Regions from separate parts of the Homo sapiens genome. Here all the other regions are linked to region 1. The links come from fine-mapping of genetic effects on gene expression. A gene starts in region 1. Each other region holds a variant in brackets. All regions are shown on one strand. Distances are between the middles of the regions.

Region 1 (10,266 bases):
GGATCACTTGCGCCTGGGAGGTTGAGGCCACAGTGAGCTGACAGCTAACCCTGATTGCCTCCATAGACTGTGCCACTGCATGCCATCTGGGCTGACAAGAGTGAGACCCTGTTTAAAAAAAAAAAAAAAAAGGAAAGAAAAAGTAAAAAGAGATAGGGTTTGGATTCAGGTTGGCCTGGATGCAAATTGGTGCAAATTACATAATCTCTCTGAACTTTCATTTCTGTCTGCATCTGTAAATAAGGATAATGATGAAGATTTGGGGCAGATTAAATAAGAATATGCATGCCTAGTATTTAGCACAGTGCGTGGCACACGGAAAGCCCTCGATAAATGTTAGCAATTAATGTAGAAGAGGAAAAAGAACCACAAAGTATTTAAACATTTGCATTTGTTAGTAGCTCGAGGAAATGGTGGCTCATCATTGTTAATAGAGCCTGCTTAGGATTGAGGCTGAAGGGGGGAAGGGTGGGAGTGGGGATAGGATAGGGGAGTGGCTCTACCTGGATTGGAGAAAGGAGTTCTGGACATAAAGATTTAAATTGGTGTCCGAGGAGTTCTCACAAGGCCTCAGCTGGAAAACAGTTAAATGCATCTTCTGACCACTAACCCAGGTTGCCTCCAGAGAAGGAAAACCAAGTGGGTGGCAGACAGGGTGGGAGGGAGACTTCTTGCTGTTTATTTGAATTTGGAACCATGTGAATGCATTCAACCTATTCCAAAAGAATAAATTACATTAAAAAATGGTCTTTTGCTATGGGGATAAGTGCTGAGAATGGTAAGACTAGGATCTAATGATAATAATAATAATAATTCCATTATACTTTGTGCAGCCCTAGGAGGGCTTCAGTCATGCAGGACAGGTTTTGAACTAAGATTGGGACTTTTTCAGCCTGACTCTGATTTCAAAGATCCAAGCTAATATTTTAATTTCAGTCACCCTCCTTCTGACCCTGATTGTAGAAAGATTCCAGACCCAGCGCTCATGGACTTGGTTTATTCAACCTGTGGATTGCCTTCAAGAGTATGCATTGTTGGGAGTCAAGTCTATTGGTAAAATCAGGGATGCATTGTCTGTGCATCTGCCGGTGTTTCCCAGTCCTTTTGGTGCTCTCTTTCTCTCTCTCTCTCTCCCTCTCTCTATATATATAATTTTATTTTTTGAGACAGAGTCTTGCGCTGTCACCCAGGCTGGAGTGCAGTGGGGCAATCTGCTCACTGCAGCCTCAACCCCGTGGGCTCAAGCCATCCTCCTGCCTTAGCCTCCTCAGTAGCTGGGACTACAGGCATGCACCACTATGCCTGGCTAATTTTTTATTTTTTAATAATAAACGTGGAGAGGGTCTCTCTACATTGTCCAGGCTGGTCTCAAACTCCTCAGCTCAAGCGATCCGCCTACCTCATCCGCCCAAAGCGCTGGGATGACAGGTGTGAGCCACCCCGCCTGGCCCCATAGATATTTTTCTGATGCTTCAATCAGCTAAGACTCTGAGGATCTGATTTTCTAGAGTCCTTTGGAAGGTGGGGGGGGGGCGGGGCGGGGGAGGATACACAACCCTATTCACAAATATTAGTAACTTGCTTTAAACTCTAAGGCCTTACATAAAATAACTCATTTAAACCTCACAATAACACTATGATATGAATACTATCATTCCCATTTTACAGGCAAAGAAACTGAACCAAGCGGTTAAGTAATTTGCCTAAGGTCAGAGCCTGCAGAGCTAACCATCTGGCATTACCATCACTCTGTTGGCAATGAACAGAGCGGGCCAAGCGTGTAGGGTGTAGGGGGTCCTTTGAAGATGACAAAAGCGTCCTTGGCTGTGTAGCCGCAAATCCCAAATCCTTCCTTCTCTGCAGCTTCTGGTTTAGGAGCTGGAAAGACAGGCTGTGAATTTCCACATTGACCTGGGGCAATTAACTTAACTCTCCGAATAGGTTCCTTATCTGCCCCGGGGAGGAGTTTTAGATTAAGAGGGTGTGTGTGTGTGCTGGGAGGGAGGTGGAGGGGCTGAGTTTTCTGGGTGGTGCGGTTTTCCCAAGTCCCGTTTTGAGGTTTTGTCCTAGCCAGCTCCCGCTCAGGTCCCTGGGCGGTGACGGTGGTCAAGCTTAGCTTGGCTGTTCCTCCTCCGCTTGGAAAAAGGCCGCCACTGGGGCCAACTCCGGCCACAGCGCTGCTGCCAGGAGACCTAGGGTAGGTCTTTTCCCCTGAGGTAGAGACCTGGGTGTACCCTCAGGAAGGCATCTTGAAGTTACTGACAGTTGAGTCAAATCTTGAAGGTCCAGCAGGAGTTAGTAAGAAGAGGTGGAAGGGGAAAGGTTAGGCGCCCCCTCCTCCACCCCTTGAACAAAGAAAGCTTGACGGGGCTTACAATATCCGAGGAAGAGCTGGGCGGGTAGAGAGGTCTGTAGAGGCGAAATCACAACTTGGCTTTATTCTAAGGGCAATGGAAGAGGGTTTTGAAGGCTTTAAAATAATGTCATTAGGAGTTTTAGTCGCTTGGGAGGAATGGGTCGGAGGGGGACAGGAAGCTATCGCAGAAAGCAGCCCACTTGGAAGATGACCGAGGACTGAGGAAAGAGGGCGGGGGACATCGAGCATCTGAAGCCTTTCCCAGTCGCCGCAACACTGTGCGCTGTCCCTCGGCTTTCTTTGCTTATGTGGAAGGGCTCCATAAAGGGCTGGGCACGCGCCAAACGCTCATTAAGCGAAATAGCCCGGGTCCCCTCCTCTTTTCAGGGACTCTGTGGTCCACGTGCCCCAGAATTGGTAGGGTAGGCGGGAGGACTTTCCACTGCTGAAGATGGAGAACCGTTACCCCTCAAAAAACACAAAAACCTCGGGTGCTTTTGGCAGCAGTCTCCTCCGCTCATGACCTCATGCTTTAAGCTCCCATATAGCCTCCCTCCGCCCAATCCACACCCAGCGCCCGGGTGGGGGTGGGGTGGGGGACACTGGCGAAGGTCTGGGTAGCGGGAGGTCATTCTTCTTGCGCGACATTTTGGGGGAAGGGGCGCAATGATTTCCCCCACGGAAAAAAATGGATGGTGTAACTTTCTGTCGTGCAAAAAATACTGTCTTGCCCTCGAGACAGATGCCTCGAACCCGGCTCGAGGTGGTCTGTTTAGCTGAACTACCTTTGGTTCACGTTTCCTCTGACCAGGAAAGAAGCTTGGAAATGCAGGGGTCTCAGGCCAGGTTCCCTGACACCTGGGCCGACCACTGCCACGCCTTCTCGGGACCTGGGGGCCGTCCTGCTGTTGCCCTCCGCCCCCGCCCGCGCCGCGGAGGTTTGAACCTTCGGCTCGCCTTTCAGCCCGCGCCCTGCCCCCTGCTCGCAGCTGCTCCCGGTTTGGGTGCAGCGGTTTCCCCCGCAGAGGAGGAGGAGGAGACAGCGCGAGGGAGCGACTCCGGGCTCGGGTTTCCGCACCAATGCCGAGCAGCCCCGGGCGGCCCCCGGTGGCCGTCCCTCCTCCCCGGCACCACGTTCCACAGTCATGGCGCGCGAGGAGGGGCGAGCGCGCGCGGCGGCTGCACCCGCGCCCCCTCTCCTCCCCTCCCCTCCGCCGCCCGGCCCCTCTCCTAGGCAACCCCCCTCCCCGGCCTGCTGCGCCTGCCGCGGCAAGGGAGACCCCTCCCCAGAGAGCTGCTCTTCCAGCGCGGTCTACTGCACCCCTTCCCCGCCCCCATCGGGGCGGAGGGATGGAGACGCGCGCTTCGCGAACCTCCAGCCCCTTCTCCGGAGCCCCAGCCCTCTCCCAGCCCCACCGAGGCCAGGGTGCGGTGGGGGTAGGCGCGGACCGTCTCCTCGCAGCCCGCCTCGACCTCGGCATCTTTGCAAACACTTAGAAAAATAAACAAACCCCCTCACAAACCCCAGTCGTTAGCTTGCAAAGCGTGTTACAATAACCGGGACGGCTACGCAGGAAGCAATCCTGCACTGGTCCGGGTTTAAGGCGGCAGCTTCCCGGCCACGCTGCCTTCTCCCCGGCCTCGATTTTCCGGCCATGCCGGAGGGTCCGCTGCACCTCAGGGCTGACAGGTCCCGCTCGCGCAGGGCCGCAACTGGGCCCGTGTCCCCCGTCCCATCCTCGTCCAGAGACTCGCCAGCCTACAAAAGGTGCAACCTCACGCACACGCAAAGCGCACAAATAAAGTCAGCAGCGCACCGCCGCGAAGGCTGCGAACAATGCGCCGGGCGGCCCGCGCCCGCCGTAGCGCTGCGCCCCGGGGGAAAGGGGACGCGGGCGGGGGCCGAGGCGGACGACCAGCCGGTCGCGGCGCTGGACACCTTACTTCCTGCTTCCCCGCCCGCGGCCAGACCCAGCTCTGCGGAGGGATATCTCCCCTCCTCGGTCCCTCTCCCTCCCTTCCCCCTCCCTTCCCCCGCCCTCCCCCTCTTTTTGCTCCTGCTCCCCCCCCCCACCCCGCCTTTCTCCTTTTGCAAGAAAATAATTTGACAGTCGATTTGCTGACAAGGGAGGAATTTGCATCCTGGATTTAAAAAAAAAAAAAAGGCCGAGAGGAGCTTGGGAACGGTTGCTAGGGGTGGGTAATGGGTGAAAAAAGGGGGGTACCGGGGAGCGGATAAGGAGGGTTAAGGGAGGGGGCGAGGATGGGGAGCAATGCAAAGGTAAGGCCAGGTTACCGCGGCTCGGCCCCGAGTGGGCTGCGACCGGGGGAGGGGCGAGAGATACATATGTATTTCTGTCTCCCCAGCACACCCCCTTCCCTCTAAGCGATGGCTGAGAGGCGGTGCATGCAGATGGGGAGTAAGTTTCCTGAAGGGGAGGGTGGATGCACGCGCGCAGCCCGGCGCTGCAAATTTCCACTGGGGAGGGAGAACGGCTGGATGCGGAGAGTTTGGAGTTGCTTGCGGCGGAGGGCAGGAAGGGGAGCAGGGCTGGGAAAGGGGGCTGGCGGGCGCTATATCTGGGAGTAAGTTTCCAGCATCAGGAGAGCCTGCACGCTTGCTCACTAGTAAGTTTCTGGCCGGGGAGGGCGCATGGGGAGGAGGAGAGGGAGGGGTGCATGTATATAGAAGGGGGGAGGGGGGAGCAGATTTCCTGCGGGGAGGCTGAATGCATATGGAGAGTAGATTTCCTGAAGGGAGGGTGGAGGCGTAGACGGACCGAGTAAGTTTCTTGCTGGGGTGGTGGAGGAGGTGGTGGGTTGGTGCTTTGGAAACCCAAAGCTTCCTACCCTGGGTGGGGGAGCACACTCTTGTCGGGGGGACGAGGGGCCAGGTTCCCTGCTGGGGAGAGGGGCTTGCATCTGGGGAGTATGTTTCCTGGCGGAGCGATATTTGTTTACAGGCTGAGGGCAGTACAGTAAGTGAGTAGCGCTGAGAGAAGGCGGCTGACATAAATTAATATTGAAATTACTCCATCAGCTCTGCTCGCCCCCCATCTCACCCCCCAAGCGGATACTGGTCTTCTCGTCGGATTGCCCATGCACTTGTTGCAGAAACAGCCAAGGTAGGCAAGAAGCTTATTAAGTTTCATTTTTAAAAAATTAGTTTGGGGATGCTCCTCGAGAAGACGGGGGTGGGGCGAAGTGGGGAGGGAAGAGTGGGGAGACAGAAGGAGAAGTCTCCCCCCCCTTTACTTTCACTATGCAAGCAGGCCTTCTCCCTTCTTCCCTTCTTCCCTCTCCGGGCTGCACAGCATCCCAGCAAAGGGGGAGGGATGAGGTGGGCGCTATAATTGGCAACCCTGGCTTAAAGGTAGTGATGGTGGGCTTGCATTTGAGGTTGTGATGTTATAAAGGCTTCATTCTCCAGCTAAGAAACCGCAGGACTCTGCCTTTTGGGGTTTTTGACATGATACATATGTGTATGTATACGCGCCTGCGGGCTCTGTGGGGGCTGGGTACTCCCCAGAAGTTAGTGTGGCCACCCAGATGGGAGAAATGTGTAAGGGGGTAAACCTGTTCCTTCACTCCCCAACTTCAGTTTGGGAGACTGGGAAGTTACTGCCGGTGGTCTTAAGAAACAGATATTAAAAACCAACCAAACCACTCCTTCACCAGCGGAGGCCGAGAGCACCTGGCAGGCAGCCTCTGGCCAGCACTGGACTGGAGCATGTGCGCCTGCCATCCTTAGGTTACAAGAAAACGCTTTCTGGTTCCTCCGTGTGTCTTCTACCGGCCTGTTAGAGCCAGCTTTGTGGAAACTCTTCCCCAGACTAGACGCAGCTTTGGCAAGTGCCAGTACTGAAGGGGATGGCTTCAATTCAGCATGGCCTGGGCTGTCTTGTGAGTGCGTGGAAGTCGTGCTTAGGAATGACCGCCCCTGTAGTGGCTAAAGAGTTCATTAAAAAATATCTCCTGAAAACCGGTCCAGGTGCACTTTTCAGCAGGTCATTGAGGAGAGTTTTAAGAAGGGGAGTTTTAAGTTGTCCCAGTTAGCACCCACCTTCTGCATCACTGACCCTTTTAAGAAAGGAGTTTGGCGATAGGAAGTGTGGTGTTGATGCTCACTGACTGGAGAGGATAACAGCAGGAGTCCTCAGTGCTTAACTAGTTAACCAGCAGCCTTTGCCTCTCCTTGCCTCTGTTTTCTTGGTCCTCAGCCTACTGGTTTCTGCAGAAGAGTTGTAGGTCTTAGCTGTCAGCTACCTTGATGATGCTGGGAGTTTTAACTTTGCTAGGATAATTTTAGCATCTCGGGTCCAACCCGGAGACGTTTAGTAGGGTTAGGGAGTAGCCACTAGGCAGTGGGGTTAACTGAGGTTGGTTAAGCTTTCTGCAATTCTGTAGACAGGCTCTGTTCTAGCAGGGTCGAGAAAAATGGGTTTTAAAAAACTCGCTACACATTGCTGATGGAGAGTGCTTTTTTTCTTTCCTAACTGTCGTCAGATTTCCAGATTGAGGGTTGATATTTGGCAGTTTGAGAGTTGAGTTAGTTGGGAATTAAATATTATTGCTGCTTATCAAATGTTCCTAACTAGGCATTAGTTAAGCAAATTAGCTATTATTTTTACCTGATGAAAATCTGAGTCTGGTTGTTGTATTTGCTGGGAGGGTAAACAAAATCTTTATGTATGTTCATTCCAGGGTGGAATTATTTACATGCCTAGCCTCAGAGCCAAGAGCAGTCATTCAGGTTTTTTTCCTTATATTTATGAGATTTATTTTATTGTCTTGCTTTGGCCATTAATCAAGTCACAGTAGTTTTTTTTTTTTTTCCTCTTCTACCGAGAATGTTCTTGCGGTAATAAAGGCTTGAAGGCCCATGAATCATAATTCGTTCTTTTTAAAATATTGTGGTGATTGTCAGGATCTGATTTATAGGAATTGATACCCGGAGTGACACACCTCTCTGGGCTCCGCCCTTTTAGGCATGTCCATTTTCGCCAAAGGATTGTTTAGAAGCCAGCTTGACATCCCAAAAAGAGCATTTCCCTTCTGCTGTATGAGAAGATTAATTTTGCAGGTTCCATAGTAAACATGGGTCTTTTCACAGCTTGGTAAGCAGGCTTCCACATAGCAGGCATGTGTTATTATCACATAGCATTTATGTGAGCTTGCTGTGAAAACAGTTGTTCTATGAACTGTGTGGAAAGTACTCAGTTTTGCCTCCTATAACCGGCTTGGGCCTGTGGTTTTTGTTGAGTTAGGAACTTAAAGTGTAAAAGAGGAGACAGACTGCAGTGTTCTTTGCTGCTTGTATAATAAAATGTGTGGTCACAAAAAATAAAGCTTGTTTATGATTTTCTTTTTCTCCTTCTTTAATGGGTGGGTTGGTTATAATAACCGAAAGCGTTATTTTTTTGACAAATGTAAGGATTCTCTGTGAAGCTGATTAGCCAGGAAGTGTTAAAATTGTCTTGTGTTCAATAGTTGGCTTAAGTTTACAGTATTGGTAAAGTGACAAAGAACTTAAAGTAGTTTGATGCTCAAGGCTAGGGGAAACATCACTGGAAAGAAAGGTGGGGAAGGTACCAATTTCTAGCCATTTCTGGGCTTTGGATTTTTTATCTTAAAAGTGCGTGGTTTGATCCGTGAGTTCCCTTCCGGCTCTGAAATTCTGTGTCTTGTAAGCGAGGTCTCCAGAGGTCTTGACAGTCTCTTCCTGAGCCAACGGCCAATTGCTTCATGGACTTGGGTGAGCTGATTAACTTCTGTTTTTGTCTTCTCATGGAGAAAGTGGATTTGATCCTTGGTATTCCAGAAAGGTCTCTTGAGTGGCCTGGTGATCTTGACCATCAAACACAAGGAAATACTTATGAATAAATGTCTGCCAGTGTCTTGGACAAAAAATTCTCAATTCTATGCACTAACAGAGAGTGCAGCATGTACATATCCTAGGTACCAAAAATAATTTCTGTTCATCTTAGAAGTTTCTTCTCCAGCCAGTTGGTTAACTTGTCTAATCCTTGGTCAAGTCTAAGGTTAACCAAGCTCTTATTCCCAGGCAGCAGGAGGAGATAGCTTTGGGGAGAAACTGGAGACCAGAAAGCCCAGTGTGGCTTTGCCTGCTTTCTGTGGGTAATTGGGATTTGGCTGAATATTTGTGATAAGGTTCATAATAATGATATAGTATCATTTTTATCACCAGGATTCTCTGTATTTCACTATGGGCATTTTTGGGAGAAGCTCTTGATGTTTTTATTGACTTTGGACATTGCCATGAAAAGTAAGGATTTAGGGCTGGGCGCGGTGGCTCATGCCTGTAATCCCAGCACTTTGGGAGGCCGAGGCAGGCGGATCACCTGAGGTCAGGAGTTCAAGACCAGCCTGGCCAACATGGTGAAACCCCGTCTCTACAAAAATACAAAAATTAGCTGGGCATGATGGTGGGGGTCTGTAATCCCAGTTACTTGGGAGGATGAGGCATGAGAAGTGCTTGAACCTGGGAGGCAGAGGTTGCAGTGAGCCGAGATCATGCCATTGCACTCCAGCCTGGGTGACAGAGCGAGACTCTGTCTCAAAAAAACAAAAACAACAACAACAAAAAAGAAAAGTAAGGATCTAGGCAAGTGGCTTATACCCCAGGCGGTATAAATGGTGCTCATGGTCCTGCTCTAAAGGCGGTTGAATTCAGCTCATTTTATTTCCGACCTCATAAAACTGTGTGGCTGAGGGAGGAGGAAGGATTAAAATCATCTGGGATCTTGTGGATTAATGATATTTCTGAATTTGCATGTTGAAGGGAAACCAGTAAAATAAAGGAGAACTAACGAATAGTTGATTTCTTTTGTGGAGAGAGGAGGACAAGAACAGCTGGATTCCAGTTACTGGCGTGCGTTGCCACAAGGGTGCTGTGGGCATTTTTAAGGAATAATATAGTCTCAGTAACATGAGTTTGACCCCAGGGCTCTCTTAATAAATCTTTTCTTCTGGGCTAAAGAAAACACACAACAAAAAGCCTCTGTGATATTTTCTAAGAATTTTAAGTTCTCAGAGTAGCTGCTTGTAGTAATTTGGTTTACTGAAGAAACAGATGATTCTTGGTCTTTCATCATGGAAGACGATGAGCTGGCATGGGGTAGCATATGCTGAGCTGTTGGGGTTTGGTTTAGCAACATAAACATTTCTTTTTATATGTTTGATAGAGCAGGAAGGGGACAAAGAACCCGTGTGCCTAAATAACAGTGATAACTCTGAGCTCAAAGAACGAGGGTTTTGTTTGTTTGTTTGTTTCTTTGAGACAGCATCTTGCTCTCTCACTCAGGCTGGAGTGCTGTGGCTCAATCTCAGCTCACTGCAGCCTCTGCCTCTCGGGTCCAAGTGATCCTCCTGCCCCAGCCTCCCAGGTAGCTGGGATTACAGGCGTGCACCACCATGCCCAGCTACTTTTAATTTTATTTTAGTAGAGACAGGGTTTCACCATGTTGACCAGGCTGGTCTTGAACTCCTAGCCTCAAGTGATCCGCCCACCTTGGCCTCCCAAAGTGCTGGGATGACAGGCGTGAGGCACCACACCCGGCTGCGGAACGAGGGTTTTTTTAATGCCATAAGCAGCCCTGGTTTCTTTCATACATGCGGCAGCTTCTTATTGAGGACTTACTATTTGCCAGGCACTGTGTTAAAGCTCCAGAAATATATTGATAATTGAAAGAGACATAATCATCTCCCTCTACCCATACCCCTACCCTTACCACTTCACTTACAGTCCAGAGGCAGACATGTAAAGAAATACAGCTTGCCAATTGTGATCAGTGCTCTGATGAAACCACAAGTCCAGTGACTTGGATGGATTTCATTAGAGTAGCCTGGAAAGGCCTCTCTGAGGTTTGGGGGTTGGGGGAGACAGCACA
Region 2 (10,266 bases), 130 kb after region 1:
GCTAAGACATGTTGCCTCCTGGTTTTGGGGCTTGGAGGCACCTATTATTGCACTTTTTCACTGGGTGCTTATCATGCTACCTTGTACCCTGGTCTTTCTCCATGGTTGTCTCACCTTCCCTATTGTCAAATTGCTGGGATTATTGCTTCATAGGTATCTTTCCTCTCTCCCATGATAGAATGCAGGGCTGACCTATGGAAGTTATCCATCAGTATCCCTAATGAAAACTGGGGGAGGCCAGGCGCGGTGGCTCACACCTGTAATCCCAGCACTTTGGGAGGCCGAGGCAGGTGGATCACGAGGTCAGGAGTTTGAGACCAGCCTGGCCAATATGGTTAAACCCCGTCTCTACTAAAAATACAAAAATTAGCCGGGCGTGGTGGTGCATGCCTGTAATCCCAGCTACTTGGGAGACTGAGGCAGAAGAATCGTTTGAACCCAGGAGGCAGAGGTTGCAGTGAGCCGAGATCACACCACTGCACTCCAGCCTGGGCGACAGAGCGAGACTCCATCTCAAAAGGAAAAAAAAAAAAAAAACTGGGGGAAAGTTGCACCTCCTTTATCAACTCTTCCTGACAGTTCCTTAGTTCTGCTGCTGAACTAGAGGAGGTCAGTATTTACCACTCTTAGACAAATACATGTTTTGTTGAATCCATTTTTTTTTTTCATTCAGATAGGCAATGGAGAGGGCAGGATAATGGAGAGTGTGAGAATAGGTGCTAGTTATCCTCTGCTTGCCCCCCACCCCCTCCCAGTGCCATTCTCTGCCCTGCTGTGGCCTGGGAGACCAACCTCAGTGGATTGTGTCAACTAGGCTCCTTTACTTTACCTTCCAGGTGTGGTTGGGTTTGGCCAGTAGGAGGCACCAGTAGGAGATCCAAGAATAGGCAGAAAGCAGGGAGCGTTAATCCCCCTGCTTCCTCTCAGCCTCATCAGTTTTCTGGCAACGGCTATCTTTTACAGCTACAGCTCCAGTCCTCCAGATGCATTGGGCTACAGTAACACTGTTCTGCCTTCTTGCCCTTCATACTTAGTCTCATACTTAGTCTCTGCATGCTGCACCATATATTGCTGGTTGCCTTAATCCTCCCCACACCTCTATAACTTGTTCATTTATTAAATTATTTTTATTTAAACTCTTTTGATCGTTCTCTATAGTATCTGAGAGTCAAGCTTAGCAGGCTTAGTTATCTGTCCCAATATACAACCCCACGAATTGATCTGTGTTATTTTCTTGAAAAGGGCATTTTGCTTTATTTGGGGCAGGGGGTTTGCATTCGGAGGAATTTATAATAAAAATTAGTCTCCTGGCCCCTTCCCTTCCTAACCCAGACCTACTGCTTGGAGGCACTTTTAACTCAATTTTATTTTATTTTAGTTTAGTTTATGGCATTTACCTCCATATTTTCAATAATGTGCTTTAATTTTACTCCTATTTTAGAAATTACTTGTTGACTTTCTGTTATGATAGATAACAACTTAACTCCCTTATACCATCCCTCTACCTCTCCTCCCCACATCCTCACAACAAAGTTGTATTATTATTTATAGTTCCTCTGCTTAGTTACCTTTATAAGTAAGATTCTTACTATCATATTTCTTGTTTCTTAACAACAGTACTTCCTGAGTCCCGGTGCAGTAAAATGGCAGTATTTGCGTTCTTACCTAATTTGCCTTCTACTTTCCAACTTCTGTCATCTCTGCTTTTACTTTTACATTGTTAAGATTGAAAACATTTACATTTTTATTTTGTAGCTGCCATTCAGTCTTTTATGCTTTATCTACAGGTTGATCTTAAAGGCTGAAAAACTAGCAGATAGGGCTTATGCTATTGTGATTGCATAAATGACAAGTTGCACATTGACAATCCACCATTGGACATACTTGTTTGATTTGCCTAGTGATTTTTTTTTAGGCTTACAGCCAACATTTAAAAATTGGTAGAGTTTTTTTTATAAAAGATTTAGAGTTTGGGGTTTTGTTTTAAAAATTGGAAGTTCTGGCACATATGGTCTGACTTCCCACATATAGTAACACTCTGCTGGAGTCTGTCCCCTTTAGAATAGGCATTCCTACTCTAGTTTGCCACAGTTCCTACCACTCGCAGTATATGCAAGTGTTCCAATACCTGACTTGCTCATTTATTTACTTACTTGCATGACGCTGAAGGCATTTAAGTGTGTGACCCTGATGCTTGATGTGTTATTCTCTTTGGAGCCAAGTAATATACTATGGATACTTTCTTTTACAGCTTTAATTTTTCCAAGACTTTCTCATTGCCTTTTTTTTAAAAACTTTGCTGTTATTATATCCTCATTTTTTTTCTCTCAAACTCTCTAGCCAGTTGGGTATTTTATATATCCCTTTCTCCCAGGGTCCTCTATTCTTCTCAAATTTGATTTCATTCTAGGTCTGCTACAGAGCTGTCACCTGAGATTTCCTCTACTACTTTACTAGATTGGTTCTACTGCTTCCTGGATCTCAAATGTTTTTTTCAGGGTGGGGTTTAGGGGGGTCTCAGGGTTGGGGCTGGTTAGTTCAGTTTCTCCAGAGAAGAAAATGCCTTTTTTTTTTTTTTTGGCTTGGAAGAATAGATAACCTGGCTGCCTCATGAGCCACCTATGAAGGGTGCAAATCTTCTGACTTCAGATTTTATAAAATTCCCCCCTTTTCAGCCTCCTATCTGATTCCTGCCCTCCGTTGTTCTGGCGTCTCTGAGTCATGAGCCTGTGGCCATTTTGCCAGGCTAATGGAATCTCATAATATTTGAGCGCTGGAGCTCAGGCTTCCTGTGCTTGCATCATCAGTTTCTAATCTTCCATATTCTGTCTGTTTTCCACAAAGTTGTCCCAATCTCTGTCCTGGGTAGCCCTCACCTGTTCCCTTTATTGTTGAAGTTATGCCTTTTAAAAAAAATTATTAGGCCAGGTGCGGTGGCTTACGCATGTAATTCCAGCACTTTGGGAGGCCGAGGCAGGTGGATCACCTGAGGTCAGGAGTTTAAGACAGCCTCGCCAACATGGCGAAATCCCATCTCTACTAAAAAATACAAAAATTAGCCGGACGTTGTGGCGGGCGCCTGTAATCCTTGCTACTCAGGAGGCTGAGGTAGGGAGAATTGCTTGAACCTGGGAGGAGGAGGAGGTAGCAGTGAGCCAAGATCATGCCACTGCACTCCAGCCTGGGCAAAAGAGCGAGACTCAGTCTCAAAAAAAAAAAAAAAAATTCTTTCACTTTTGTTTTGGTAGTGATGTGTTCAAATGGAGAGGGTATAAATGAATACAGTTAACGTATTCGTCTTTAATAGGTTGTGCTCAGAATTGATCTCAACCCTTCTTGAATCTGTTTAAATTGTTGTCCTATGTCAATGTAAGAGCCAATAGGCTAAACGCTCCACCACCTAAAGTAGGAACTTTTAATCCTAAATTTACCCCTTTAGGATTTAGGAAACCTGTCCTAAACCCTAAAGGAGTATATTTAGGATTAAAAGTTTGATTGAATAGACATATAATAATATAATATAATTTAGTTATGGCTGGGTGCGGTGGCTCATGCCTGTAATCCCAGTACTTTGGGAGGCCGCCAGGTGGATCATTTGAGGTCAGGAGTTCGAGGCCAGCCTGGCCAACATGGTGAAACCCCATCTCTACTAAAATACAAAAATTAGCTGGGCATAGTGATGGGTGTCTGTAATCCCAGCTATTCGGGAGGCTGAAGCAGAAGAATTGCTTGAACCCAGGAGGCAGAGGTTGCAGTGAGCTGAGATCACACCACTGCACTCCAGCCTGGGAGACAAAGTGAGACTCCATCTCAAAACAAAAACAAACAAAAAATAATAATGATATAATGTATTTAATATAATATATAGCATTATATTATTATATGTCTATTGAATGCACCATTTTTTTTTTTTTTTTTTGAAACACAGTCTCACTCTGTCACCCAGGCTGGAGTGCAGTGGCACAATCATGGCCTTGACCTCCCAGGCTCAAGCAATCCTTCCACCTCAGCCTCCCAGGTAGCTGGGACCACAGGCACACACCATCACACCCAGTTAATTTTTACATTTTTTTGTAGACATGGGGTTTCCCTATGTTGTTCAGCCTAGTTTCGAACTCCTGGGCTCAAGTGATCCTCCTGCCTCAGCCCCCCAAAATGCTGGGATCACAGGCATGAGCCAGTGTGCCAGGCTCATACTTTTTTTAACAATCAAATTAAAAGCTTGTATTGGTTAGGGCAACATTAGCTGCTGTAATCATCTCCCACATTTCAGGAGTTTAACATGAAGGAAGTTTATTTCTTGCCCTTGTAACAGTCAATGCAAGTGTTTCTGGTTGTAACTGGCTTTCCTCTACAAGGTAATTTAGGGATCTACATGCCTTGCCTCTGTCACTCTGCTATACTCTGGAGCATGCATCTTTAATGGGGGCAGTATCATGCCCAAGGGGGCAAAGATCTTGGAGGCTGAAAAATCTTACATTTTGATGCATAAATCACAAACATCTACATGGTACATAAACAGATATAGAGTATATCTGTGGTGTGAAAATGTCATGGAGGAAAGTAATTAGGGAAAAAAAATGTCTAAAAAGTCCCCTTAGGAGGGCAACAATGAAGAAAAGGTGGAGAAACACTGCCACAGGCCTATGAGGACTCTTCATTCAGGTGGAAGGGAAACAGAAGATGGAGAAGGCTCACCTGCTTCTTAACCACCTTGGCCCAAAAGCGATACAAGTTACTTGGCCCACATTTCATTGGAGAGAACTGGTCAGGGAGTTCCACCTTGCTGCAGGAGGAGATGGGAAATGTAGTCTCTGGCTGGCCACACTTCAGAGTACTTCTAAGTGAGGACTCTTAGCCAAAGAAGGGAGAGCATCTATTTTGGAGGATGGTTGGCCTCCCAATACAGGAATCAAACAATGTTGTCTTCAAGGACCAGGTACTACATATTTTGGGCTTGCAGCCATGGTCTCTATTGCAGCTACTGAACTCTGCTTGTTGCAGCTGAAAGCAGCCATAGATAATACTGAAATGAATGGGTGTGGCTATGTTCTAATAAAGCTTTATTTACATAAACAGGCAGCGGATTGGCCTTCAGGCTGTAGTTGTCCAGCCCCTGAGTATCCATTCTGGAGCCTTTCAGTTGTCCACATTACCTCTGCTTCTTGGGACCTAACCCACATTTCCTTTACTTCCAGTGCCTAACTAGAGCCTGGAGCTTCCTCTTAACTGAATGAAGGGTTCGTCTTGGCTGTTTCACTGAAAACAGTGGAATATGACCCTCCACCAAGTGAAGTGTAGAGATCCCAAGACTGTAGAAAAGAAAGAAATTTTGTCTATGTCAGTCCAATGTTAGCCCTCCCCACAGCCACCCTACATGGTAGGGGTAGAGTGCCTGGCACTCATTATTAAGTGCTCAGAAATTTCCTGTATTCAGTGTTGGGGGCTGGTTTAAAACTACTTGTATTCAGCGAAATAAGACCTTGGAGAATATGGACCTCTATTTCTTGTAGCGTTAGAGTGGATTATTATTCAATGGTTAAAACTAGTATTTACAAAGAGCTTT[T/C]TTTTTTTTTTGGAGACAGAGTCTCGCCCTGTTACTCAGACTAGAGTGTAGTGGGGTGATCTCGGCTTACTACAACCTCCACCTCCCAAGTTCAAGCGATTCTCCTGCCTCAGCCTCCCAAGTAGCTGGGATTACAGGCGCCTGCCACCACGCCCAGCTAATTTTTGTATTTTTAGTAGAGACGGGGTTTTGCCATGTTGGCCAGGCTGGTCTTGAACTCCTAACCTCAGGTGATCCGCCTGCCTCGGCCTCCTGAAGTGCTGGGATTACAGGTGTGAGCCACCGTGCCTAGCCTAGAACTTTTAACAACATGACAAAATGCTTATTTTATAAGCAGGATTCAAAATTATGTATACAATATAATCTCAACTATATCTTAAAAAGTTTAGCAAAAAAAAAAATAATTCTCAACAAGTGATGGAGTTTTTCTTCTTTTTATTTTGTATCTGTTTTCTAAAATTTTTACAGTGAACATGTTTTAGATGTGGAGAAGACTGTTATTTTAAAAATTATTGAGGTCTGGGAGCTCACGCTTGTAATCCCAGCACTTTAGGAGGCCAAGGCGGGAGGCTTGCTTGAGCCCAGGAGTTCAAGAGCAGCCTGGGCAACAAAATGAGACCCTGTCTCTATAAAAAATTTTTTAATTAGCCGGGGATAATGGTGCGCACCTGTAGTCCCAGCTTCTTGAGAGGTTGAGGTGGGAGGATTGCTTGAGCCTGGGAGGTTGAGGCTGCAGCAAGCCATGATCATGCCACTGCACTCCAGCCTGGGCAACAGAGCAAGACTCTGTCTCAAAACAAACAAACAAACAAACAAAAACTACTGAGGAGGAAATTAGTGCTGAGTGAGGGTATAATTACCCAACAGGTTCTTCCTTCCTCCTGCACAGACAAAACCAATTCACTGAGACCACAGTATTGTAGTAGACAAACAGTTTAAGGCAGAGCCAGCCAAGCAGAAAGACTGGAGTTATTACTCAAATTGGTCTCCCAGAGAACTCAGAGGCTAGGGTGTTCTACGGATAATTTTGTGGACAGGGGAATGGGAGCTGCTGATTGGTGAAGGTTGAAATCGTAGGGGTGTGGAAAATGGTCCTTGTGTGCTGAGTCAGCCTCTACATTAGGGGGCCACAGGACAGGTTGTCATGAGTCCCAGGTCCAGGTAGAGTCAGATGGTTGCCAGAATGCAAAAGTCTGAAAAGCATCTCAAAAGACCCATCTTAAGTTCTACAATAGTGATGTTATCTATAGGAGCAATTGGGGAAGTCACAAATCTTGTGACCTCTGGCCACATGACTCATGAGTAGCAAGGGATTATAAAAAGGCAAGCTGGGGGCGGTGGAGGGGAATGGCTGGTTATCCTTTAGCTACACCTACATGTTAGCAGAATTCAGGCCCCTCCCATAATCCTAATCTTGTGGCCTTTCATTACCAAGACAAAGGCGATTTTGGTCCCTGAGCAAGGAGGGGGTTCGTTTCAGGGAGGGACTGTTATCATCCTTGCTTCAAAGTTAAAACAATAAACTAAATTCCTCCCATGGTTAGCTTGGTCTACACCCAGGAATGAGGGAGGACAGCTGGCTTGTGAGGCTAGAGGCAAGATGGAGTCAGCCATGCTAGACTCCTGTCACTGTCATAATCTTTGCAAAGGTGGTTTCAAGAGTATTAATGAAGGTGTCTGCCTGCTTGTGCACACATAAGCAGGCACCTGAAAATGCCATCCAAAATTTTGTTAGAACAAAGTCACTATGAGGCAGTCCCCTTCATCTGTCCTCCCCAAGTTAGAAAAGCTTCTTTGGATAGTGACCAGGAAGGGTTCTGACCTGCCTCTACATTGAGGCATTTTTCTCATTTCTTAGTAATGAGACCCTCACCTAGATTTTCTTTCCACTGAGGCAGACCAGCCTCTCTGGATGAATCATCAAGATTAGCAATGCGGGGAGGAGGAGGTGCATGCTTGGGGTTAACTGCGTGCCAGAGTCATTGGTCATCACAGCCACTTCCCCAGACCCATGGACTTTCTTGACTTTGGCGGAGAAATTAAATAACTTGTGACTCGAAATGTCATTTGTGTAGACCCATTAGCCAGGCAGCCTGACGTCCAGGTGCCCCCACCCCCAGTGGAGCAGAGAACAACTCATTCTGCAGGAAGAACCAAATCTGAGATCATCCCAAAACAGCCTCTTATTTTTTAGGCCTCCCTTGGGTCCTCATGTGCATCTTCCAGGTACCGTGAGGGTAGGTGTGGGGGTCCTCTCCCCTGAAAGGAGAGCACCCCCACCCAAGTCCCTCCTCTTCAGCCTCTGCCTGTGTTTCTGCTGGTGATGTCCTTCTTGAGCCTTGAGCTGTCTGCACACTGGTCCCAACCTGTGCCTTCCACACTGCTCAGACTTGCAGCGTTCTCCAGCCCTCAGACACTTCACTATGACGTTAGGGGGTGGCAGTGGGTGGGGGGGGGGGTGGTGTTCCTCTCCCCAACCCTGACCCAGGGGCCCCACCTGGTCTCTTGAAGGATATCAGCTGCTAGAAGACAGCCCGATGGCCCCCCTTCATTTGACCTCCTTTGTCTCTACTCCAGGAGCTCCCTCTTAGCTCCAAGTTAGGTTAGGGTGACCTCGTCACAGCCTCTTTGCCTCTACCCCTGCTTCTGTGCTCTAAGCGCCGATCCTAGCGCCCTTCTCTTTCATCCCAATGTGCCATACTCTAGACCTGGATGTGCCACGTGTAAGGATCACACTCCAGCAGGCACGAGGCATTAGAAAGTCCTTGGCATGTGCTTCTGTGAGCACCCAGACTTCTTACTGTGACTTGTGAGGCCCTGCACCAGGGTTTGTCAACCTTAGTGCTATTGACATTTGGAGCTAGTGAATTCTGTCTTGAAAGGGACTGTCCTGCACATTGTAAGATGTTTAGCAGCATCTCTGCCCACCAGGTGCCAATAGCACTTCCCTAGTCGTGACACAGAAATGTTTCTAGACACTGCCAAATGTCCTCTGGAAGGCAAAATCACTCCAGGTGGAGACCACTACCCTACATAATGGAGACCCCGTCCTACCACGCTGCCTCATCCCACCCACTGCACACCTGCCACATGCACGCTCATCCCTGCCAGAGCCACTGCACTCGCTGTCACCACTGCTGTGAACGTTCTCTCCTCACATCTTCATGCTTTGCTCATTTAGGTCTCAGCTCAACTGACACCTCCTTACCTTGGCCTTTCCTAAGCACCCTATGCGACCAACCTATTCGCTCCATCAAGTTTATACTTCTGTTTTGTTTTAAAATCACGTTTAGAATCTCTGACCTTGTTCCTACTGCTTTCCTCCTGGTTTTCACTGTCCCAGCCACACCCTTCTAATTCCTCAGTCACATCCGGCATGTACCCACCACAGGGCTCTTGCTGTTCCTCCTCCTAGAATGCTCTTTCCCCAGATCTCATTGTTCTTATTCCTTCAGGCATTTGCTCAGATGTCACCTTCTCAGAGAGGGCTTCCCTGACTATTTCCTACTTTGTTTTTTCCCATAGCATCTACAGCCATCTAATACACTATACACTTTAATTATAATAATTTTTATTTTCTGTTTCTCCCTATTAAAATGAAATCTCCATGAGGGCAGGGAGTTTTGTCTTCTTTGTTCACTGTTGCGTGCCAGTCACGGAGAACAATGCCTAGCATTGAGGCACTCGGCCAGTATTTTTTTAGATGCATGAGCTTAATTTTGCAAGGCTTGCTGGGACCTCTGCCCTAGTTTAACTGTGCACATTTGAAAGCATCGGGTGAGCTTGGCTTCTTGTTGTAAAACCAGGGATTTATGTTGATGAAGAGTTCGATCAGGGTAGACTCATACTCTAAAGCATGTTTTCTTGTGAATAGAGATGTTTACAAAGCACAAAGCAGTGAATTTGCTAATAGTTCTTTTTACTGGCATCAGCTAGGGTTCTGAATTTAGCTGAAGCTTATACTTACCATGCCATGGTGGAGGTTTTCATTTCCTAATATGTACATGCATTTGTCTAAAAGTAATTAGTTTGTCTTCAGTTATGAGCCACAAGAGGTCAGGACCACCACTATGGCACCTCTCCAGAAAGGGGCGTGCCTGATAAGCACAAAAAAAAAACCCTTTAGGGCCGCACCTCCAGCTGTTCCCTGTTTCCCAGGATCTTGTTTATTTCTCATCTCTCCCGGCTTCCGGTCTCATTCCTTTGCTTTTTCTCTTAATAGGCTCTCATCCTTGTCTCAAAATCCCTGTCCTTACCTCCATGATCCATAAAGACCATGGCTCTCAGAAGGCAACGTAGAAGTGAGTCTGCAGCACCTCCCCGCTTGGAGCCCAGGAAGTCCTGAATATGACCAGGAGAGTTCCTGAGGCCCACATATCCTAACATGTTGAAATCCAAGGTCTTTCAAGGAAGCCCCACCACATATGCCTTCAGAGACCTGGCCAACCCTGCCAGCCTCCCCAATAGGTTCTCCCTCATATGGTCACATTGCCAGAAATCCCACTCCTGGGGCTCAGTGAAGGCCCTTGGGTCTTCAAGGGAATTCCTTGTTCTGGGGCCCACATCCCAGGAGAGTGCACAACTTGAGCACGTTTGCATCCCGGTAAGCGTTACTGGGAAGGCTCAGATTTACAGGTGACAGATGGAGAGGGACTCTTGGGAGAGTTAGGATGTTGCAGAGAAGACCCCTTTTCCAGCTT
Region 3 (10,266 bases), 56 kb before region 1:
TTTAAAGTCAACTTATTATTTATAGCATCCTCTAGATTCTCTATTGACTTTTGGTTAAGTGCCAATTTTTCTGTTTGTTGCATATGCTAACTCTCTACTGATAAAAATCTAATCACCACGGAGCATCAGGAGCCAGTCTGTAGTCTGACCAAATTAGTTATTAACTCAGTCCAGCAAGGGAGGCCACTCCGGGGGAAATGTGGAGTGTCGCTCCAAAGAGGGAAGACAGGAAGCTGCTGAAGGATTCTGAAGATTCTAAGGGAAGTAGGCATCAGTTCTGGATTGGTTGCTCCTACTCTGGTTGGGGGTGGGGTCAGTTAAGAGAAGTGGGGATTAAGTAGGTATTGGGTGCTGCCATGAGGCAGCAGTAGCTCAGCAATGGGCTAACCAGCAATAGGTGGGTATGGCAAAGCTGTCTGGGAGTTTGGTAGGAAAGCAGTCAACGTTCAAAGAGGGGGTCTTTATGGCATTTTACAGCTGCCGACTGACTTTGGGGGAAGCAATGTTCCTGTGAACTTTGCAGCTGGCTTTCTTTATGTCTGTCTTCTTTCTGGCTTGAATTGACAGTTGCTTTTTCTTTTCTTTCTTTTTCCAGTCCAACCTATTTTTCACTCTTTAAATCTTAGACAGGATTTGACTCTCACCAGCATAGTAGGGTGTTTGTAATTTTTTATTGTGAACTTGTCTTCAGCAGGTTGTTTCTCCCAATGGGAATCCTTGAAACTCTTGAGTAGTAACATTTTCTCCGCGGAGATGATTCACACATTTGCTTCTGCCAGAATGCTGAGTGTGTCAATGGCCCTCACTCCTATGCACATGGCATAGGCCCAGGGTTTAGGTTTCTCTGGATGACATTTTCCCCCTCATGTTCCAGACCTTAAACAAATGGTGAGCTTCCTGGCTGATTCCCAGGGCCCATGTCCAGTTTTTCTATCTCCATTTAAGGGGGGAAGAGTGCCACAAGGCCTTATTTATTTATTTATTTATTTATTTATTTATTTTAAGATACGGAGTCTCACTATGTTGCCCAGACTGGCCTCAAACCCCTGGGCTCAAGCGGTCCTCCTGCTTCAGCCTCCCAAGTGGCTAGGACTACAGGCATGTGCCACCATGCCAGCTCAAGGCCTTCAATTTTATGCAGGGCTCGCTGCCTTCCTCCTGTCCTCTCACAGGTATTAGCCCCCGGCCCTAACTCCAGATCCATATTCTTCTGGGCTACTATGACATCAGCTCAGCTAGCTGCTCTGCCTTTGATGGTTCTCTTCATTCCTAGCACCTGGAGATTTATTTGGATTATACTTTATTCCACATCTTCTCTGCATTTGTGCTAGAACTGGGCCTACTTCCACAGTAGTTTCGTTGACTCGGTCCTGATGCTAGGACCTCAATGGTGGTTAAAAGCTCAGGCTCTGGGGACAGACCTGGGTTTAAATCCTGGAGTCCATGGTTATTTTTTCTATGGCTTTGGTAAACTCTTTAAGTGTCCTTCTCTTGTCTGTAAAATGAGAACAATGACATGCCTATTAAATGAGGTAGTAAATACCAAACACATATATAAGAACTCAGTAGCCAGGAGCGGTGGCTCACGCCTATAAGCCCAGCACTTTAGGAGGCAGAGGCAGGTGGATCACCCGAGGTCAGGAGTTCAAGACCAGCATGGCCAAAATGGCGAAACCCTGTCTCTACTAAAAATACAAAAATTAGCTGGGTGTGGTGGCATGTGCCTGTAATCCCAGCTACTCAGGAGGCTGAGGCAGGAGAATTGCTTAAATCCAGCAGGCAGAGGTTGCAGGGAGCTGAGATCACACCACTGCTCTCCAGCCTGGGTGACAGAGCAAGACTCTGTCTCAAACAAAAACAAAAACAAAAACAAAACTCAATAGATACCATTATTATTATTACTATCAATATAGAAAATTAAAGAAATAAAAAAGAACAAGAAAGACAATAGTGTGTGCCACCTGGTGGCAAGACTTACCTCCCAAATCAGGAGGTCTTCCTCCATCCATCTTGGACACATTCTACCTATAAATACAGAATCCTTACCCATTCAGTTGCCCCCCAAAAGCCTTTGATTTCCTCAGGATGGTTCCGAAAAACACCTTCCTCTTGTTACTTTACCCGGAACATGGCTTAAGTCTTTGGCTGCTGGAGATGGAAGATCTGCCTTTGAATATGAGAGTTCTGACCAGCTACTTCTGTGTTCTGTGTTTTGTGATGTGTTGTGTCAGTGGGTTAGTGTTTTACTGCTTCCTCTTAAGTAGAAGAATAACTTTCTTTTTGGTGACTTCTGAAACAGAACGTCCCCCTCCCCAAGACACACAAGTGTGCATATACAGGCACACATCAACCAGGCAGTATGCCGAGGTCATAACACTTCATTCATAACACCATTAAATTATAATCTAACCTTTAAATTATAGTTAAGATGATCATCAGCAGTGCAATGCCATGTGAGCTACACATATTTATTCCCCACATGTCTGATTTTGGAAATCCGACATCTTCTCTAAATGAGTGCACCTTCCTCTCAATGCTCACTTTCTCAATAAAGATAAATGCATCATCTACACACATACTCAGTTTCTATCCCTAAATTTTCCAGCCAGGGAAATCTAATAACTGTTTTATATATCCAAGGATATCTATGTGTCTAGCTATCTCATGCTTCTGGAATTCTACATTCACATATTATGAAGACTAAATGGAAAAGCCCGCATGGATGTATCTAGCCCTCAGTTGGTACTCAGTCAGCCCTCAATAAATGTTGGAATTGAACATGTCCCTAGCCTCTACATACTGATGCTATCTAAGGTAGATTTTTTAAATATGCAAATAATAAATTCCCTAGTGCATTTTTTTCAAAAGTTTCATATATATGTGTGTGCATATATGTATATTATATGCATGTGTATGTATATGTTGGCCTGCCAGTCACTTTTTCTGTTTCTCAAATGAGTCAGCGTAAGCTCTGGGAAGCCAAGAGTGATTTATATTCTGTACTCAGAGTCCTCCCCCACCAGAAGGTCTTACACTTTGCATAGATTCTTCTTATACACATGATGATGTTCAGGGCTGGCTTTGGTGTATCATAGTGAACCTTAAGGGGCCTAGGGGGAATTGTGTTTTTCCCCACTCCATGACAAATATTACAGATAGGCCCACTCAGCTCCATTCCGACTCCCAGCAAAACTTTGAAATGCATTGTTCTGAGCTATAAGTGGTTGAGAATACCCTACAATGGGTTATATGTTCCCAAGGTTGATCAACTTTTATAGGATTCCAGGGCAGAAACAAGTGGGGGTAATTTTTCCGCTAATATGCCTTGCTAAATGCTTCAGATAAAAAGAGAAAGACTATTAATTTCCTAGACTCCTTTAGAGCTGAGTTCTGAGTCCATCAAGGAAACTCACTTGGGAGTTTGGAAGACAGATATAAGGTGGGGGCCACAGTTCTGCTATTCTCTGTCATTCTCCTGGCATGCACATGTGTGGAGATAAATGGAGTTCTGTGACAGAAGTGGGAAGAGTCCCAGTGTCTGGTTCTTAGCTTTGTGGGTGTCAGGAACGATGTGATCCTAGTATTTCTGGTATTTCCTGATTCTCCAACTTATTGTAGTGACAGAAGAAGCAGCTCCCTTATGGGCCACTTCTGCCATCTTGTTCTGGGGAGTCATTCTTGGAAGGTCACCGTAGGGCTCTTCCTACAGCCCCTCAAACAATTTTTTAAGTACCTATTTCTCTTGTCAAGGAATCATTTGTTTAAGTTAGCCCTAGTGGTTTCTGCAACTGAACCCTGATGGATAGACCCTAGAAACACCCCTTCCTCTCACATCCCCATGCTATCTCAACCCAGGCTGGTGACTGTAACTGTAGCTGGAAAATTCTGCCTTTGAATCCTGTAGAAGCTTATCAACATAGGGAACATATAACGCCATGTAGGACATGCTCGATCACTTATAGATCTGAACAATACACTTAGAAGTTTTGTCCTGGGAAAAAGCTTTGACTGTGTGGAAAAAAAGAAAGAAACAAAAAGGATTATGGGTGTAGTGGGCACCTTTTTTTTTTTTTTTTTTTTTTGAGACAGAGTCTTGCTCTGTTGCCTAGGCTGGAGTGCAGTGGCACGATCTCGGCTCACTGCAAGCCCACCTCCCGGGTTCACAATATTCTCCTGCCTCAGCCCCCCAAGTAGCTGGGACTACAGGCGCCTGCCACCACGCCCGGCTAATTTTTTGTATTTTTTTTTTTAGTAGAGACGAGGTTTCACCATGTTGGCCAGGATGGTCTTGATCTCCTGACTTCATGATCCGCCTGCCTCGGCCTCCCAAAGTGCTGGGATTACAGGCGTGAGCCACTGCGCCTGGCCTTAGTGGGCACCTTTTTAGAGGAGTTGCCACTGCAGGAGACAACCAGGTACTGAGCCGGAAGATAAACGTTGCCACCTCCATGCTTTTACCCCACACCTTCCCCTGATGATTGTGGCATTTGGTTTTACAGCAGAGTGTCACCATCAGGGAAACCAAGTAACTGGGAAAGTGGCTGGAAAAGTCACCCATCCCAACCACCCTCCTTGCCTGAATCTGCAGCCATGATGCAAATTTTCCAAAATGCTCTGTTTAGCAAGAGTTGGCTGTGAGTTCTAAAGAAAAAAAACCCTAATAGTATTTTTGTTCTCATCCTAAGTGTTCTTGCAGGGGAAGTATTTTTTTTTTTAATTTAAAAATAAAATGTAGTTATTTTTATTTAAGACAATTCCCCATCTTGAACACATTTACATTTTTTTCTTCCCCCATTTACAGCCTATTTCCTGAAAAATGTTGAGAAGATTTAAGTGTCTAATATTTTCCAAGGCCATCTCATGATTCATCAGTTTATTGTTTGTTAAGTATCAGCCTCAAGAAACTGGCTTAAATGGGAATGTTGATCTGGATTTTCTCCTCTGATTTACTTCACAGATGACGGGAGAATGAATTAAAAGATTAAAAAGTCAACATTTTGCTGAGTCCTTTGAATAACAAAGAGGTCCTGTAAGAACCAAGTGAGGCTAAATAGGCAATCCTTGTCCTGTGATATAGCATCACATATTAATAGAATTTGTGACAGGAGGGAGGGGGGCGGGCGCAGTAGCTCATGCCTATAATCCCAGCACTTTGGGAGGCCAAGGTGGACAGATCACCTGATGTCGGGAGTTCACGACCAGCCTGATCAACATGGAAAAACCCCGCCTCTACTAAAAATACAAAATTAGCCGGGCGTGGTGGCACATGCCTGTAATCGCAGCTACTCGGGAGGCTGAGACAGGAGAATCGCTTGAACCTAGGAGGTGGAGGCTGTGGTGAACTGAGATCGCGCCATTGCACTCCAGCCTGGGCAATAAGAGTGAAACTCCATCTCAAAAAAAAAAAAATATATATATATATAGAATTTGTGACCGGAGGGGCCTTAGGACCTGTCACCTAATTTCACAGAAGAAGAAACTGAGCCCTAAAGAAGGGAAATGACTAACTCAGGATTGCCAGTGACCAGTGGCAGAGCTGGGAGTAGAATTCAGGTCTCCTGAGGTTCACCCTCC[G/A]GTGCTTTCTCTCCTGTCTTGCTTATTTTCATGTGAACCCTTTTTGATCACACTTCCCTTTCCTGCTTTCCAGCCTTTTGATCACACTTCTACTTTCCTGCTTTTCAGCCTGAGTATGTCTACTTATGAGAAATACAGAGATCATTTAAGGAGCTGAGAATTTCCTTCTCACTTAGAGCTCCATAGAAGTCAGGACTCCCATTCACATGGAACAGATGAGAAAGAAAAAAGTTCAGAAGGGAGTTTCACTTGCCAGAGTCCACACAGCTACGGTTAGACCTCAGACCTCCTGAACAACCAAGCCGATGTCCTTCCCAACACATTAAAACAGGTGGGCTAAATAGGTGGCCTGGTACATTACATGAATGTACTGTTCTTTTGTTTAAAGAAGTGTGTGGGAAACAGAATTTGGTCTAATTAAAGGCCGTTGGGGGTGGATTAATGAAGTACAAAAAGGGCCTCATTAAAAGAAGCTGTCTTCTAAAAGGCAAGCCAATGGCAGTTATCTTTCCAAAGTGAACATTAGAAAGTGGTTCCTGTGTAATTTTCCAATCATTTAACTTAAAGATTCCTATCTATTGATACATGAGGGTCTGCATGTACTTTTGTGATGGCTTGAACCAAGGTTGACTTGAGCAAAAAGCTGCTCAAGGCCAGTGATCATTGTTTAAATTATGAAAGTAATATAAGCACATTACAGATCTTTGGAAAGTTCAGGAGGGAAAAAAATGTACCCATGGTTCTACCATCCAGCATGGTATTGTTATTATTTTGTACATTCCCTTTCTGTCTTCTCATCAGAAGTGTCTTTACGCAGTTTTAAATGGTCTTCCTCTAATTTTCATAGCATACTATGACCTTGTATTACACTTTCCCCTGTGACATTAGATCATAAACATTTTTCTCGTAGATTTTGTCTTCATGAGCATCACATCTAATGGCTGCAAAAAGGTCCACCTCATGGGGGTCCCATAAGGTGCTCGTGATTCTCTAGAGGATTCATGAACATCTTTCCAGGGGGGGGTCACATTGTCAAAGACAGCAATGGCATTTGTTTTAATTTCAAAAAATAAAAAGTAGCTCAGTTTTTAATTTGAAACATTGCCCCTTTAAAGCTGAGCAGCATGAGAGCCTCTGGATGTGTGTCACGTGGATACACACAGGGTTAGTGGAGATGATAAGCCAGTGCCTCAGTCCATACCCCGCTCAGCACAACACACTGGGGACTAACACCTAAGAAGTCTATTGGACTGTTATAAATTCCACACGGACTCATGCTATAACATGGATGAACCTTAAAAACATTATGCTGGCCAGGTGCGGTGGCTCACGCCTGTAATCCCAGCACTTTGGGAGGTCGAGATGGGTGGATCACCTGAGGTCAGGAGTTTGAGACCAGCCTGGCCAACATGGTGAAACCCCATCTCTACTAAAAATACAAAAATTAGCCGGGCATAGTGGTGGGTGCCTGTAATCCCAGCTACTCAGGAGTCTGAGGCAGGAGAATTGCTTGAACTCGGGAGGGTGGAGGTTGCAGTGAGCTGAGATTGCACCACTGCACTCCAGCCTGGATGGCAGAGTGAGACGTGTCTCAAAAAAAAAAAAAAAAAAAAAAAAGAAAGAAATTTAGGGGACACATTCAAACTATAGCAAGGAACAATTCATTTACTGGGAATAATGATTATCCATACCCCAATTCCATTTCCAAATGTACTTGTAGAAAATTGTTTGCAAATGACAGCCTGAAATCTCTCATCTCTTTGTTTTGAAACAAAACATAAAATGTCCAAAAATAAAACAGTTGAGATCCGTTTGTGATTCATAAGGGTGATGATTGGGTTTTCATGCTAATATGTGAGATGTGACTCCTTCAAACTTCCTTGTTATGACATCAGCACATTACTCATCTGATGTGAAAAGAAATTTTTAATTTAAAAAAGTTGATATTTTAAGCTAAAATGCAAAAATTCTAAACACTAGGCAATCACAATAGCTTTTGTCCATTTGACTGCCATAGCATGTAGTTACTTTTATTTTATTTTAGAGACAGAGTCTTACTTTGTTGCCCAGGCTGTAGTGCAGTGGTTTGATCTTGGCTCACTGCAACCTCTGCCTCCTGAGTTCAAGTGATTCTTATGCCTCAGCCTCGAGAGAAGCTGGGGTTACAGGCGTGTGCTACCACGCCCAGCTAATTTTTTTTTTTTTTTTTTTTTTTTAGACGGAGTCTCGCTCTGTCGCCCAGGCTGGAGTGCAGTGGCGCGATCTCGGCTCACTGCAAGCTCCACCTCCCGGGTTCACGCCATTCTCCTGCCTCAGCCTCCGGAATAGCTGGGACTACAGGCGCCCGCCACCACTCCCGGCTAATTTTTATGTTTTTTTTTTTTTTTTAGTGGAGGTGGGGTTTCACCATGTTGGCCGGGATGGTCTCCATCTCCTGACCTCGTGATCCACCCACCTCGGCCTCCCAAAGAGCTGGGATTACAGGGGTGAGCCACAGCGCCCGGCCATTTTTGTATTTTTAGTAGAAACGAGATTTCACCATGTTAGCCAGGCTGGTCTTGAACTCCTGACCTCAGGTGATCCACCCACCTTAGCCTCCCAAAGTGTTGGGATTACAGGCATGAGCCACCTCGCCCAGCTGCATGTAGTTACTTTTAATCTATACTGAATATAGGCTTGGTCCCTAAACTAACCATAATAAACAATTCCATTTCGAAATGTAAATCACAAATTATATTTTGTCTTACATAATTGATTTAAAGTATGTGTCATGTTAAACAGAAAGTTGAATTTTGTCTTAATAACATGAATATTATTGGATTATATTAAATTAATATTTTTTGTAGAATTGTAATACTTTTTTAAACATAAACAATTTTACAAAAAATTGTAAAACATATATCAATGAGCTAATATTTATAAGTGTAATATTCTAAATATTTTTGAAGTGCCTGTAACAATGCCTAGAACAGTGCCTGGTACATAATAAGCATTATATGTGTCTGTTAAATAAAAAGAAAACGAAATTATAAAATATTTTAAAATACTACAAGTTTTATAAGTATATTTATATATATGAATTGATAAAGAACATTTGCATAGTAAAAAATATATATACATTGGAAAATGCAGATTTATGTAATCACTCCCCCATTGTTGGCTATTCAGGTTACTGCCAGTGTCTTTTTTAAAGGATTACTATGGTGAACATTTTTCAAGCGTAAAGTTTCAGTAGTTTATGTTATTTTCTTAAGGTATCTTCACAGAATTGGATAACCGGTGCAAAAGTTGTGATGACATGTATTACTTTCTATATGTGTCATAGTTGCTAATATTATCTTAGTGGCACTTAGCATAAGGAAAATATAATGCCCCAACTCTGCGTCAGGCTCTGTTGCAAGAGGCTTTACCAAACTTATTGCTATGGTTGGAATATTTATTTCCTCCAAAACTTTGTTGGAATTTAATCCACAACATGGCAATATTGAGGAGGGGGTCTTTAAGAGGTGACTGGGTTATGAGGTCTCTGCTCTCATGAAGGGATTAGTTGATCGGTGGGTTAATGGATTAACGGGCTATCCTGGGAGTAGGACTGGTGGCTTTATTAGAAGAGGAAGAGAGACCTGAACTAGCATGCTCAGCCCCCTCGCCATGTGATGCCCTATGCCACCTTGGGGCTCTGCAGAGTCCTCACCAGCAAGAAGGCCCTCACCAGATGTGGCCCCTTGACCTTGGACTTCTCAGCCTCCATAACTATAAGAAATATTTTTTTTTCTTTATAAATTACCCAGATTCAGGTATTCTGTTATAACCAACAGAAAATGGGCTGGGCACGGTAGCTCACGCCTATAATTCCAGCCCTTTGGGAGGTCAAGGTGAGTGGATCACTTGTGGCCAGGAGTTTGAGACCAGCCTGGCAAACAACCTCCTTACTAAAAATACAAAAATTAGCTGGGCATGGTGGCACATGCCTGTAATCCCAGATACTCAGGTGACTGAGCCACGAGAATTGCTTGAACCCAGAAGGGGGAAGTTGCAGTGAGCTGAGATGGCATTACTGCACTCTAGCCTGGCTGACAGAGCGAGACAAAAAAAAAAAAAGGGCAATAGAAAATGGACGAAGACACTCATCTTTATGGATCTTCATGATAATTCTGTTGGGTAGGAGGTAGTATTATCATTCTTATTTTCTAGATGAATCAACTGAGACTCAAAGAGTTGAATCACAATGACCTGATGTCTAGGAGGGAACACTGAGTTTCAACTGCAAGTACACCAAGTAGGAAAGACTGTCTTGTGGTAAATTTCTTTCTCTTGGCTAAAAGTAGGGGGTGATATCGGGTCAATTTGTTATTGTCACCTACAAGAGAGATGGAAAAGGCTTCTACATTATCATGAACTTGAGAATCTTACAGTTAAAAATTGGAAAGATGAAAAATGGGGTGGAGAGTGGGGCAAGAGTGATTGGTAGGATTACTTGGTGTATCAGTTTCCTTGGGCATCCATCACAAAGTACCACAAACTGGGACGCTTAAACAATAGATATTTATTCTCTTATAGTTTTGAAGGCTGGAAGTCCAAAATCAAGGTGTCAGCAGGCACCTGCTCTCTCTGAAGGCTCTAGTTTCAGGTGGTTACTGTCAGTCTCTGGCATGGCTTGGCTTGTGCATGCATCACTCTAATCTCTGTCTT

Alleles and levels. Positions count from the first base shown, and alleles are read on the strand shown. Sizes are in standard deviations (SD) of each study's normalised expression.
For the expression in macrophages of the gene that starts at base 4,732 in region 1, allele T in region 2 goes with a higher level than allele C (moderate effect, 0.46 SD a copy in Nedelec 2016).
In carriers of allele G in region 3, the expression in lymphoblastoid cells of the gene that starts at base 4,732 in region 1 tends to be lower than with A alone (moderate effect, 0.68 SD a copy in GENCORD).

What was found. PIP is the estimated chance that this variant, and not a neighbour inherited with it, causes the effect.
Region 2: its variant is the best candidate, but not a certain one, in a credible set for the expression of TRERF1 in macrophages (Nedelec 2016, PIP 0.51).
Region 3: its variant is the best candidate, but not a certain one, in a credible set for the expression of TRERF1 in lymphoblastoid cells (GENCORD, PIP 0.51).

The regions. Positions count from the first base shown.
Region 1 is chr6:42,446,392-42,456,657 of GRCh38, reverse strand. TRERF1 (transcriptional regulating factor 1) reads left to right here and starts at 4,732. Exons shown (of 18, transcript NM_001395490.1): 1 at 4,732-4,984; 2 at 5,397-5,481. It overlaps LOC124900214 (arf-GAP with GTPase, ANK repeat and PH domain-containing protein 2-like), which reads right to left and starts at 4,298. Exons shown (of 4, transcript XM_047419627.1): 1 at 2,376-4,298; 2 at 1,743-1,878; 3 at 504-713. The coding sequence starts at 3,837. The coding sequence ends at 2,740. LOC107986596 (a long non-coding RNA gene) reads right to left here and starts at 4,298. Exons shown (of 5, transcript NR_171668.1): 1 at 4,033-4,298; 2 at 2,376-2,441; 3 at 1,743-1,878; 4 at 504-713. RefSeq lists silencers at 3,278-3,717, 4,188-4,267.
Region 2 is chr6:42,313,466-42,323,731 of GRCh38, reverse strand. All of the region lies in intron 3 of TRERF1 (transcriptional regulating factor 1), which reads left to right. Among named protein-coding and RNA genes, the nearest start is that of MRPS10, 100 kb to the right of the region's middle. RefSeq lists enhancers at 6,993-7,082, 7,673-7,732, 7,801-8,468. The variant T/C (reference allele first, on the strand shown) is at 5,567.
Region 3 is chr6:42,502,721-42,512,986 of GRCh38, reverse strand. It overlaps LOC124901534 (small nucleolar RNA U13), which reads left to right and starts at 7,381; the gene lies at 7,381-7,487. RefSeq lists an enhancer at 5,624-5,743. The variant G/A (reference allele first, on the strand shown) is at 5,575.